Regions from separate parts of the Homo sapiens genome. Here region 2 is reported to be linked to region 1. The links are microRNA targets in miRTarBase. Many come from high-throughput screens and were not tested one by one. Region 1 holds a microRNA gene; the other region holds the end of a gene's coding sequence.

Region 1 (7,123 bases):
AAAAAGTTTTCTTAGTCATTTTCTTCACAATCAACTTCCAAAGAAATCCATATAATTTATTGTTAGAACAACCACAAGCAACGAGAAGGTATAAATGTTACTACTCTTACACAGAAAGACACCAAGAAAATGTTATATTGTTAAAATGGAAGTTTTAAATTCCTGGTTAAATTTAAAGAAGTTATGTTGCCTGTATTGGAAAATAACCAACTAAAAAAAATTCAGGATGATGGCTATTAAAACACTTTGAACAACACCTTATTGAAGAAAGATATTTATTTTGTTAAGTTGAAATAGGAAAATTTTAAGCAGTATTAATCTCCTATTTTTGGATACCTAGGGTTTCTCTTATGGTTTTCTGTTTCACCTAAAAATACTGATTAATAATTGAGTATCTGTGAAGTCGAAACTGTAAATAAAATACATATTTTTTTGAGAAGCAAAGTGAACAAATCAACCAAAGACACACTCACCCATGCCAAGACAGAATATTCTTCCCACTGCTTCAAAATCTGCTCTAAATAATGTAAGAAGCTTTGATTCAAGGAAAAAATTTTTTTCTCATAATTTCAATTAGTAATTTAGGCTAATCTATGTCGTTTGACATTTTACTAGAAAAATCTCTTCTCAGGAATTTAAACTAAAATTTTGTCTGCATATTTTTATCTAACTTTTAAGTTCAGGGGTACAAATGCAGGTTTGTTACACAGGTCAGCTTGTGTCATGGGGGTTTGTTGTACAGATTATTTCATCAATCAAGTATTAAGCCTAGTACCTGTTAGTTATTTTTTCTGATCCTCTCCCTCTTCCCACTCTCCACCCTCTGAAAGGCCCCACTGTGTGTTGTTCTTCTCCATGTGTCCACGTGTTCTCATCATTTAGCTCCTACTTTTTAAGTGAGAAAATGCAGTATTTTTTTTTGCAAAATTAAAATCCAGATCATATTTGGAAGATAGACAGGGAATGCTTCCTAAAACTGCCTTGAAAGTAAAAGAAAAAAGACTTGTCACCATCTTTGGACTGCTCCTTTAAAAAAAATTTCATTAATTAAAAAAATATTGAGTGCTTACTATGTGCTAGGCATTGAGCTAGGAGAAGGCTATGTGGCTACTAACAGGATACACATGATCCATATTCTGATGGTATAAAAAGTAAAACAGGAAAAAGAAACAGACTGAAAAATATCCCAAAAAACTTGACGTACAATTCTAATTAAAATAAATTCAATTTTTGTAATGTAAGTTTCAATAATTTACCTTATCCTTACATCAAGGAACATATATGTAAGTATAACTTTGCTCCTTCTCTCATTCTATTACCATGTCTTCAAATGTCTATAGATTTGCATGAATAAACTAAAATAAGAATTTTAATTACCAATTTTTCACCATAAAATACTAAAAGAATAGCTTGCAAAACTGTATTATAGTATCTGCATGAAAATGATGTTTTACGAACTAAGTAGATGGGAATTTAAAAATCAAGCCCTGACATGAGTGCCCTCAACTGGTGAAATCATTCCAAAGCATTCTTTTAACGCATCTAGCAAAACTCAGAAGGACGGCTGGACACCTGGCCCTGAAGCTCCCTAATGGTGTGTTCCTGGTCTGCACACTTCCCCTTGCAGCACTGCAGACTCTCCTGACACTCGTGAAGCCTCCGTTCCGCCGCCGTCAAGGAATCGCAGACACGCTCTAACTCCTTCAGATGAGACTCCATCTGGCCTCTCATCTGAGTTGTGGCAGTAGGGAAATAAGTGCAAGATCACACATTCAGCATTAATATTTTTATTATCTTAAATACTAGATATGCTTATAACGTAAGTATTTTAGGTATAATGGCTTTAAATAAGAACACAACTGAATAAATATTAAACTCTGTTAAATAAGAATGTATAACTAAAAAGTGGGGTAGACTTTAGTTTTCAAAAAGTTTGTTGAGCACATAAATAGGGTAAATTAGCTGACAGGGTGGATGTTTAACTAATTTTTAAGAGCAAATTTTTAAAATCCTGACATTATATTCAAGCATAGATTATCACTAATAACCATTACTAATAAAGCCGTAATTGTCTACTGCCCAGCTATAGGTTCTAAAGGAATTGTCACTTTTAGTCATTCAATCTTATAACTCAGATACTTACTTAAATTAGAGCAGCTTGCTTCACTCATCTTAGCCAAAACTGATAGGGTTTACTGTATATTATTTAAAAATTGCTAGTATCATCAGTTCTCACTTGCCTTTAATTTGGCCATTAATGTTACTATCAACAAATCTCTCTAATTTCATCTACATTAATCTGTTTTGGCTACTGCAGTTCCTCGCTGCAGCACTTTCGTGGAGATGTGAAAAGCAGCAACCTTAAGAAATGTTTGCACTGCTAATTACAAAAAATAGCCAGACTCTTTCCCTGAGACAGGAACACCTAATAGTTTCTGTGTAGTATCTGGCATTCTTGATCAGGAAAGATAATGCAGTATTTTTTTTTTTTTGCAAAATTAAAATCCAGATTATATTTGGAAGACAGACAGGGAATGCTTCCTAAAACTGTCTTGAAAGTAAAAGAAAAAAGACTTGTCGCCATCCTTGGACTGCTCCTTTAAAAAAAATTTCATTAATTAAAAAAATATTGAGTGCTTACTACGTGCTAGGCATTGAGCTAGGAGAAGGCTATGTGGCTACTAACAGGATACACATGATCCATATTCTGATGGTATATAAAGTAAAACAGGAAAAAAAAAAAACAGACTGAAAAATGTCTGTTTTAAGGACACTGAGGGATCCAGAACAAAGGATCCCTCAGTGTCCTTAAAACATCTTAGAGGCCATGAGAAAACCAGGAGACTTAAAACAGTGAAGTAAGAAAAAGAAAAATTTCATTAAAAAAATAGTTGTCTTGTTAAATACTAGTTAGAAAACATTGTGACCTCACAGTATCTGAAAAAGACAGGCTCCAACCCTTTCCGTCATTTGAACAGGATTGTAAAATATGCTTTTATTTACAGTGCTGCCTAGCAGAAAAGGAGACATTTGCACTGGTATGTTTCATGAGAAAATGAGACCAAAAGACATGAAATGGTTTATTCGCTGGCCTGCTAAAAATAGGTGAAAAGTAATTCCATGAAAGCAGTAAGTTGTGCATTCAGTGAGCTATCTTTATGTCTGTATAACTGGAGGACGCTTGCTCTGGCTGACCTCTTCTTCACATTATTGCCTTGCTCTGACTTCTCAATCCTAAGATAGGGAGCAACCCAGAGAGAGTAACCTTATTAGATTCAGATGGAAGCGACCACTAACATCGCATGACCTCTGCTGCCAGGAGTCAGCATCCTACAACTTTCACTGCTTCTTTACCAAAACAACACAAAAAACCAAACAGAGATGCGGTTTCATTTAAAAATTTTAAAATATTCACAAAAACATCATAACTCGCCAACACTGGCCTTCCCTTCATTCTGTTGCAATAGAACAAATAAAAGGAAATGATCGTTTTTTAAAAGATATTATTTTTCTTCAAAAATGCATTTAGCAGATATTGGCTTTGCTTTTGTAGACGTAAAACATTTATAACCAGAAAAAAAGGGTGAGATTAAAAATGAGAGATACTTAGGTTTGTATACTTATGATTGATAACCATTTTTTGAGCTATTTAAAGTCTGCTCTTGCATCAGAAAAATTAAACATTTATGCTATTTTCCAAATATTAACAAAAAAGTGAAAAAACATTCACATAAACAAACAACATTTCCAGCCTGGAAGAAACATTATTTCCTTGGAAAACAAACTCTTACAGAGGCTAAGACTAGCCCTTTCCTAAGTATGAACTAGAGAAAATGACCAAAATGAATGAATTTGTGTACTATTCATAAAGTAAAAAATATATAAAATATTATTTATTTGAAATTCCAAACGTACCTTCTCTACATTTTTATTTTTGGTTTTTGTTATTTGGTTATTTTTATGTAGCAAATTTTCACATCTGCTTTTTACTATTTCAGCTGCTTCTTGCAACTTTTGTACCTGAAAATAAAGTATTAGAGAAACATATTATTTTTAGAATCATAACATGAGATAAAAATCTAAAATTTAAAATTTCATTTTAAACAAGTCATTATTTTCCTATCAATATCCTTGACTGGTTCATCTAATGTTATTACTTCTTTAAATATGGAATCACTCAGTGCTCTACTCTAACCCACAATCTTTGTCTGATTTACCTGTCTTCTCTCATCAATACTTCTAAACTCTCCACTTGAGCTTTGAAGACTACAAAGATTTTCATTTGCAGATCAATGTCACTTCAAAGAATCAGTCTCTGGTCCAAACTAGCTTCCATTTAAATTATTTTTCCCACCAAATCAAAATCTGCTAAAAAAAAAAAAAAAAATTCTAGGCCCTGCACCCAGAATATGGTCACTCAACCACAGTATTCCTGCTGAGGGATTAAACCCAAATAACCAGCTGGAAGACCCTGATGAATAACAAGTCCCACAGTCCACCACAACCTCCATTCCTACCTCAGACCTGGATGACTGAAATATTCTAACTGGATGTCTCAACTTAATTTTCCCATCTAATCCATCGAGATGCAGCCCCTTCCTACTTGCCCACACTTTGGCCCCCTTAAGCTTTCATCCTTAGTTCATTCTTTTTTTTTTTTTTTTTTTTTGAGATGGAGTCTTGCTCTGTTGCCCAGGCTGGGAGCACATTGGTGCAGTCTCGGCTCACTGCAACCTCCACCTCCTGGATTCAAGCAATTCTCCTGCCTCAGCCTCCTGAATAGCTGAGACTACAGGTGCATGTCACCACACCTGGCTAATTTTTGTATTTTTAGTAGAGACAGGGTTTCACCATGGTGGCCAGGCTAGTCTCGAACTCCTGACTTCAAATGATCCGCCCACCTCAGCCTCCCAGTGGATTACAGGTGTACGCCACTACACCCAGCCAGTTCATTATTCTTTAATTCAAACTCTCTCTGACCAGTGTGTTAACCATCATGCAAGGACCTGCATAAGTCCCATCTTATGAAGTTTTTTCTTGAATACTACATTTCCAAAAAAATAAAGGTTTTCTATAAATTACCATTGAACACATGGTCTATTTCATATATATTGTCATATGTTCTTTTCTTGGTCTTTCATGTGAATAATCTGAATTATACTTTATTTCTTGAGAAAGGAGGCATAATGAACTTTAATGACCCTAGAAGGGAGTCATTAATCTAAATCAATACCATTAAATACACATGATGACAAACAAATATAACCAAGATTAACAAGAATACATTAAGGGTCACATTATACCGATGTAATTCATTTTAAATCTACTTTTAGGAATATCCAGTATATCCATATGCAGTGTTTGAATCAGGAATCAGCAGAATCATCTATTTATAAAGATGTGTGGGACCTTAAGAAATATTTGAGACACACCATATTATAACCCACAATGATAGCCCCACCTCTCTTCAGTTCTATTTATTTAGATTACAAAGAAATAGTGTTTTAAATTGTCTACCAATTTTAGTAAACACTAAAATAAATGCAGTAGTCACCTGAGTTTTATACATTTCAATAAGGGTTTTCTGTTTTTTTTCTACTTCTTGCAATTCTGAGAGTTCATTTTCAACAGATACAACTTCATCCTTCAAAGCAGCAAGTGTAGTCTAGCAAAAAAGATATAGATTTTATAAGTCATTAGAATACATTTATACTCCAGTGCTACAGAATTATTATAAAAACATAACTCATGTATTAACAAAGTTGATAAAATAATTATTTTTTATTTCATGCAATACCATCTAAAATTTAGGAATTTCACAAAGCTAGTGACTAATAATTATGAACATCCTTATTAAGATTTACACAGGACATATTATTTTTAAAACTTTCTAAATTTACTGACAAAAAAACTTGGAAATGTGCCTAGATATGAAAAATCAATAGAATACAGAGGTTACTGGAAAAGAAAAATACACAAAAATTATACTTAATACATGATAAAGGTTAGATTTTTAAATCAATGGAGGAAACATGGACAACTAAATAAATGACAATAAGACAACTGTTTAACTATTAGGAAAAAAACAGGTTAACTACCTGCCTCAGCCCAACACTAAAGAAGCATCAAATGAATTAAATAAAAACTTTAAAAATTTTCAGACAATTCAGATAAAACTGTATTTCATTTCAGGATAGCAAAAGTCCTAAAGAGCATAAAATTAAAAGAAGATATGTAGAAATGTAAAAGTCTGAGATTTTATCTTCCTTGCAAGCTTACTAGTTAGTCTACTGCAATTTCATGGATGCTAACAGAAGGTACAAGATTCCTAGGTCAGAGACAGGGGACTTATTACTCACAGCAATAAGAGTAGCAAGACTGTCAGCATTTGTATCAGTTTGCTGAGCCCCAGTTCCCACAGAGCAACCCAGAGGCCAGATGGCAACTGTATATGCAGTCAAATGCATTACAGAAGAACAAACCTGAGTTTAGGGAACCCAAATTTCTTATAGCAGGCAGTGAGCATGCCTACCCATACTCCTAAGGGAGACACGGTTACCATATTCCAAGGATATCTACTATACAAACATCCTTCAAAAGACAGTCTACATGGACAATATCTTTGATTACAAGATGTGCAGAGCTGTGAGAGCACTCTCAAGAGAAGCCATTTAAAAAAATGTGTGTGCGTGTATCTCTCTCCAAAATTTCACAGCTTTCCAATACAGTTTAAATGGCAAACAAAATATGAAAAAGTATTAGCAAATGACAAATTTGATGTCTTGTCAAATAACATTTGTCATTAGAAAAATAAAACAAATATAAGATTAATATCCTTAATATAGTTATTATATATTAATTAGGACAAAAGACAAATATAAAAAATAATGAGTAGGTAATTCAAAAAGGCAGAAATGTGAATGATTGATGAATACATGAGCCAATATGTTCACTAGTTACTTTTTAAAATGCTGCAGGCACTGAAGGTTCTATTAGTGAACAAAACAGACGACATTCCCTTCCTCCATGAAGCTTACATACTGGAGGGGCAGACAGACAAAAAATAAGAACAAGCAGTAAAATACATCAAACACAAAAGCAGCTAGGAATGACATGTGGGCGA
Region 2 (7,123 bases), not on the chromosome of region 1:
TTTTTGTGAGACGGAATCTCGGTCTGTCACCCAGGCTGGAGTGCAATGGTGTGATCTCAGCTCACTGCAACCTCCGCCTCTCGGGTTCAAGCTATTCTCATGTCTCAGTCTCCCGAGTAGCTGGGATTACAGGCGCACGCCACCACGCCCAGCTAATTTTTGTATTTTTAGTAGAGACAGGGTTTAACCACGTTGGCCAGGCTGGTCTTGAATTCCTGACCTCAAGTGACCTGCCTGTCTTGGCCTCCCAAAATGCTGGGATTCCAGGCGTGAGCCACGGCGCCCGGCCCGAAGCCTTTCTCCTTCAGCGAGAGGCCCCTTCTTCGCACCCAGTAGACTGTGGCCCCCGGCAACGACCACGCGCTCCTAGGTCCTCCTGGTGTTACATGTCACGCACACTTGTGCGTTTCAGATTACCACGATGGAGAGCAACCTGAAGACCATCGAAGAGGAGAACAAAGTGATTGAGCAGCAGAACGAGTCTCTCCTCCACGAGCTGGCGAACCTGAGCCAGTCTCTGATCCACAGCCTGGCTAACATCCAGCTGCCGCACATGGTAAGTGACTGAGCACGCAAGGCAGGAATGTGGAGTCCTCCACAGCGCACAGCCTAAAGTAGATGCCGTTTTTATCGTTATTTTCATGGTTCTTCAGCCTTTGGCAAATGTTTGTGGTTACCACCCCGAAACCATACCATTAACTGCTAGAAACATGGGCGGGGCTGACCCCAGAAACTTAAGTGTGCTCTGAGCCGGCCTTTGAAATAGTATAAAACCAGGGGCACTATGCTATGATACTATTTTATGCTTTTGTAAATATACTATTAAGAAAATAAAAGTTGTATATGAACTACTATTTAATATCTCGTAGGATCCAATCAATGAACAAAATTTTGATGCTTACGTGACTACTTTGACGGAAATGTATACAAATCAAGATCGTTATCAGAGTCCAGAAAATAAAGCCCTACTGGAAAATATAAAGCAGGCTGTGAGAGGAATTCAGGTCTGAACAGCTGCTGTAGTGATGAAACTCTTGCTTAAAAAGGATGCCTCTTGTTTTTTGCTGCTGTAACTTACCAGAAAGTGTTCTATATTTATTTCTGTTTGAATTTGAAACAGTGTTATGCTTACAAGACTTCATAATGATTTTATGTCTTGCTTTAAAGATAGTACCTGCAGAATAGTTTTTGAATACACCCACATTTTGTACGTTTCCATGTAAGCTGACATAGTGTTCTGCCATGTAATGTTTATAGCTGCTGATGTATGCACATTTGGGGGTATATCTATTTCTGAAGAGGTAAGCTGATCAAAATAAATAGAGTGTAAATTCTTTTTAATGCTTTAGTGATTAAATGTTTTAGTATTTTGAACTGAAATGGACACACAAACACACACACGCACACACAGACCCACAGCTTTGAATGATCATGTTGTGGCTGAGCAGCCGCTTTTTAGACGTTATCATTTTGCCTCATGTTGGAGGACTTTATGGAATTTAAGAAATACATTTTGTGTGCATATTGTTTCATAGCAAGAATTCGTTGCAAAAATGCTTTATTTTTGAACAATGCTTGGAAATATTATGTGACTTTTTTGTTTGTTTGTTTTAGGAGGATGGTGTATGGTGGGGGCAATAAATGAGGTTTTTTGCATTCCAAGGAAATGGCATATGGATTAACTGTAAGAAATGAAATAAGTAATTTATTGTAAGACAACATCAAGCCATGGAAACTTGGCAGAAGATTCAAAGCAGCTTAAACAGCACTTTTAAATTAACTCCTAAGCGTTACATGGTTGTGACTATGGAAACTCCAGTTAAGACAGGATCTTATCAGAGGTGGACAACGTGAAGATTTCCTTTTCCATTTTCAATAAACTTTGGAACAACCTTCTCGTATCTCCCCTAGAGTTTCGTGCCCCTCTGAACTGTCTGTTATTGCAATGTAGTTTATCAACAGAATTTGTGTGTTTTCGATTTAAGCTAAAAGATAATTTAAGAACATTTATTTCCCCTTTTCACTTTAAAAAATTATGATTATTCCTATTATTGTTATGAACCTTCTTATTTTACATTTGAGGGATAAAGGCAAATGATTTGTGAGTCTTCTAGTTACTGGACCGAGTTTTCTGCTGGATCTGGTGGGAAGGCAGCTCGGTAAAGTTTCCCTCCTGCTCCCCCCGCCCGACTTTGACTCTGAATCAGCATTTGGTCCTATTCAGAGGACTCTTACCACGACGTTTCTGTTCTACACTTGGGTGGAGACCAGTTGACCATAGAGCATTTGCAGAGCCTCATTGTTTGATTTCTTGTGACTATTCTAAGAATGAATGCAATCAGATTTTAAAAGTAACTAAATATACTTCAGCACTTTTTTGCTTTAAACTAGATCATCTTAGACTTGTTTATACCTTCCAGATTTGATTGTTTTACTCCCAATGACTGCACTATATGTATGCATAAGACCACTTTTGAGCGCTGTGTTCCCCCTTCTGAGTAGTCCTTTGACGACGTGTTGTGTTTTCTGATGTTGACTTGAGTTCCATTTAGTAGCATCTCTTCCTTCCATGTCTTGATGTTATGCAGGAAGTACAGACGTACTTTAAATTTTTGTTATGAAATAAAAAAAAGATGGGTTTTGTAAAAATAAAAAAAAAATATTTTTAGCAGAACAGGACTTACAGGGTCATTGTCCCCACAATGTGCCAGTCGACTATTTGCACTTACCTTGTCCTATATATCCGTACGGAGGTGTGCAATTCCTCGTGTCAGTAGCCTTGTGACACTGAACCTGGATGGATTATAGAGGAGCCCTCACGGCTGATCAATAATGTTGCAAAGGGAGACTACAGGGATCTCACGACGAATATTCTGATACAATACTCAACCTCGGTATATATATATGTGTATAAATATATGTATATCCCAGCGGCACTTTATACTGTTCACTGTACAAAAGCTTACAGTTTTCCACAAGGACTTTAATAACTAGCTGGGAAAAGACGATGTAATTATTTCGGGGCTCTGCGGAACCTTCTCTGTACAGCGCCCCCTTTCTGTTGTGCTATTGGTTGCAGCTGCCATGCTCAGAATGCGTTTTGAGAGCTGAAGCAAGGTGCTTGCAGTCACCTGAGGCCGTCCGTGTGGCCCAGGGCCCCAGCTGCCTTTAGGGCCCCCATTGTTCATAACAGCATATGCATTTCCCCACCGCGTTGTGTCTGCAGCTTCTTTGCCAATATAGTAATGCTTTTAGTAGAGTACTAGATAGTATCAGTTTTGGATTCTTATTGTTATCACCTATGTACAATGGAAAGGGATTTTAAGCACAAACCTGCTGCTCATCTAACGTTGGTACATAATCTCAAATCAAAAGTTATCTGTGACTATTATATAGGGATCACAAAAGTGTCACATATTAGAATGCTGACCTTTCATATGGATTATTGTGAGTCATCAGAGTTTATTATAACTTATTGTTCATATTCATTTCTAAGTTAATTTAAGTAATCATTTATTAAGACAGAATTTTGTATAAACTATTTATTGTGCTCTCTGTGGAACTGAAGTTTGATTTATTTTTGTACTACACGGCATGGGTTTGTTGACACTTTAATTTTGCTATAAATGTGTGGAATCACAAGTTGCTGTGATACTTCATTTTTAAATTGTGAACTTTGTACAAATTTTGTCATGCTGGATGTTAACACATCTTACTCTAAATAAACAAGGTGTTGCCACATTTGTAGCACGAAGGATCTCTAACCCGGGTCTGCGTCTTCACTTGAGTCTGGGAAATGCTGTCTGGGGTCCCGTGGGATCCACTCGAACCCTTTCACTCCAACTTAGTTGCTTTTAACATTTTTACCAGTTTGATTCTCAACTCCGAGGCATATAGAAGTCAATGACTTTTAGAAAACTATGTGAGTGTCTCGGCATCCCCACTGGGCCGTCCTTTTCCCATTTGCTGTCGCTCCTGCCCCTCGCTGGGCTAGGCCATCTGAGAGCGAGCCTGGACGGAGGACACGGTGCCTCCCAGCACAGGGCTCCCCTGGGCAGGGAATTCTCCACCAGCAGCCCTGCAGCCACCACACTTGGGGGCATTGCCGTTGTGCATGCGTCAGCATCTCAGCGCGCCCAGGCAGGGCGGTCACGTCCTTTGTAGAGCCTTTCTTCTGGAATCCAGTCGAGGAGGCGCGCTGCTCCCAGCTGGTCCATCCCTGTCCCTGTCCCTGTCCCTGTCACCTCCTTATTACTGAGCAGACTCTCAGCCTGCCTGTCTCCCAGAGGAGGTGCACTGCTCCCAGCTGCTCCGTCCCTGTCCCTGTTCCTGTCCCTGTCACCTCTTATTACTGAGCAGTTTCTCGGCCTGCCTGTCTCCCAGAACACAGACAGTTTTCAACTGCCCAGGGCCATTGTTTTACAAAATGTCCCAAACTGGCTGCCACCTCCTGACTGATTCGGGTTAACTGGGAGACGTGTCCTTCTCCAGTTTCACGTCAGGGGAGCAGAAGGACAGGCAGCCCATCGTTGGTTACCTGGGTGTTGAAAGATGATGCCTTCTTACTTCCATGCTGTTGGCAAGGATCCCGGCAGCAAGTCACCCATAAACTTAAATTGCCCTTCAAATATAATTTAACAATGAATTACCCACTTTCACATCAACTATATTAGTTAATGTCATGGTTTAAAATTCCAAAAATACCCTCCTCTCATAGACACAATCACCCAAAATATAAAATTTGAGAAAGGGACTCTGATAATCTTAGTTAAATTTCATAATTTATTCCCAGTGGTGCCTTCAGCTGCTTCACGATTCAAGGTCCTCTGAGCACTTCTTATAAGCTAGTGTGTTCGGATGGCTCATTTGCAACAGCACTGCTTCCTGGAAGCACTGGTGATTGCAGTGAGTCCCCCTCCAGTCCTTGGTAGAGTCCTCAGAGCTGACAGAAGAGAGAGGCGACTCTCACTCCTACCACCCTGCATCTCTGTCTCTCTAGACCCGCAGGGTGGAAGAAGCTCTGTCAAAGGCTGTCTTTAGGAACAAGCCGAGTTAATGATGTGCTGGCTCAGGCCTGTCTGTTAGGATTATTAAAAGCTATTTGTCCATAGGAACAGTTTGCCTGAGAATTGATGTAAATATTTTAGAAAGCAATTTCACAATATTTTCAAAAATCTTAGAAAATTTATATTTTGCCTCAATCTCAGTCTATACTAGAAATACCAAAACAATTACAAATGTACCAAAATCAATAAAAACAACCCTAAAGTCCTATTACAGAGGAATGATTAAGCAATTCATGATCCATGAATTTTATGGAGTACTAGAGAGCTCTTAAAATAATGGCTATAAAAACCTTGTAATAAGGGGATTATGATAAAGTAGATGAAGAGTACAGAAAAAAATTACAAATGCATGAAGGGGCATTTGTTATCAACAAAAAGAGTTGGACTCTGTAAAATATTTGAAGAGATTTATTCTGAGCCAAATATGAGTGGCCATGGTCCACGACACAGCCCTCAGGAGGTGCTGAGAACATGTGCCCAAGGTGGTCAGGGCACAGATTGATTTTATACATTTTAGGGAGGCATGAGACATCAATCAAATACATTTAAGAAATACTTTGGTTTGGTCCAGAAAGGTGGGACAACTCAAAGTGGGGGCTTCCAGGCTATCGGTGAATTTAAACATTTTCTGGTTGACAATTGGTTGAGTTTGTCTAAAGACCTGGGATTGATAGAAAGGGAATGTTCAGGTTAAGATAAAGACTGTGGAAACCAAAGTTCTTGTGAAGTCTTATAGTGGCTCCCCTTAGAGACAATAGATGACTAATGTTTCCTATCAGATTTTATTTTTTTTATTTATTTATTTTTTTGAGACGGAGTCTCACATTATTGCCCAGGCTGGAGTGCAATGGCACAATCTCGGCTCACTGCAGCCTCCGCCTTCTGGGTTCACGCAATTATCCTGCCTCAGCCTCCCAAGTAGCTGGGATTACAGGTGCACACCATCACATCGGCTAATTTTTTGTATTTTTAGTAGAGACGGGCTTTCACCACGTTGGCCAGACTGATCGTGAACTCCTGACCTTGTGATCCTCCCACCTCAGCCTCCCAAAGTGCTGAGATTGGCACGTGAGCCACCTCGCCCGGCCTTCCTATTCGGATCTTAGTTAATCTCTTCAGGATTGAGAAGGCCTGGAAGAAAAAGATCCAGTTATGTTAACAGAGATTCTTTACAGATGCAAAATTTCCCCCTACAAAGAACAGCTTTGCAGGGCCATTTCAAAATATGGCAAAGATACATGTTTTGGGGTAAAATATTTTGATTTTCTTCCTTGTCTTGTAATGTTATGCCAGAGTCAGGTTGGAAAAGTAAGTCATGATATACAGGTTAAATAAAACCCATCTGATGAGAATTTATAGTTTGCAGGGCGTGACTCCCCAGACCCCTTCAATAGGAATTTGGGCAAGATAAAAAAAATCAGAGTTTAGTCCTCAGCCTTAGCAAAATAAACTTCTGAATTGGTTGAGACCTGTCTCAGATACTTACTGGTTTACACAACACAGCTGGGTAATGAGGCAGAGCTCAGGGTCTTAAGGGAGAAGCAATTTAAGTACATGAAGATAATCAGGCTTTCATCCTTTGTATTTCACTTACTATGACACACACAAGTTATCAGTCACTGTTCAGACACTGGGTCAAGTGGGAAACGACACAAAGAAAACATCCCATCCTAATAAATGTAGTTGGCATAGACCTCCTTGTATAATAATAAAACAGGCACATGGCAGCCCCTGAGCACCCTCATTTTCAGTATCAAATAGAGTGGCCTAAGGGGAAGCCTCACTGTTGGTCCTAATGAGGCCTCCCCTGTGTGAGGCCAAATGTGGGGCATGCTGGACTTTCCTCTGGATGGAGTCACCTCTGGTCTCTGACCCCATCCTTGCATCCTAGTTTCTTCTCATCCTCTTCTTGCTTTTTAATTAAATGAGTTTTTTCTTTCTAGAGCATTGTTTGTGTCCCTTCAGTTTCTTCGAATCTTCGTTGAGCAAGGTAAGATAAGGAAATAAAGAAGGATCAGTATTACCCACAAACACAGGGATGTGTGTGCAGATGGCCA

The links. The annotated mature microRNA hsa-miR-7856-5p reads UUUUAAGGACACUGAGGGAUC and lies in region 1 at 2,794-2,814, opposite strand. An mRNA with a match to its seed (bases 2 to 7 or 8) in the 3' UTR can be bound and repressed. Matches are read on the target gene's strand: a 7mer-m8 pairs with bases 2 to 8, a 7mer-A1 pairs with bases 2 to 7 and ends in A, and an 8mer does both.
Region 2: miRTarBase lists MYT1L as a target of hsa-miR-7856-5p. Seed matches in the 3' UTR shown: 7mer-A1 at 1,038-1,044.

Annotation. Positions count from the first base shown.
Region 1 is chr1:86,354,872-86,361,994 of GRCh38, forward strand. It overlaps MIR7856 (microRNA 7856), which reads right to left and starts at 2,816; the gene lies at 2,761-2,816. It overlaps ODF2L (outer dense fiber of sperm tails 2 like), which reads right to left. Exons shown (of 17, transcript NM_001366781.1): 11 at 5,555-5,665; 12 at 3,916-4,020; 13 at 1,573-1,731.
Region 2 is chr2:1,785,754-1,792,876 of GRCh38, reverse strand. It overlaps MYT1L (myelin transcription factor 1 like), which reads left to right. Exons shown (of 25, transcript NM_001303052.2): 24 at 413-556; 25 at 870-3,764. The coding sequence ends at 1,010. Among named protein-coding and RNA genes, the nearest start is that of PXDN, 45 kb to the right of the region's middle.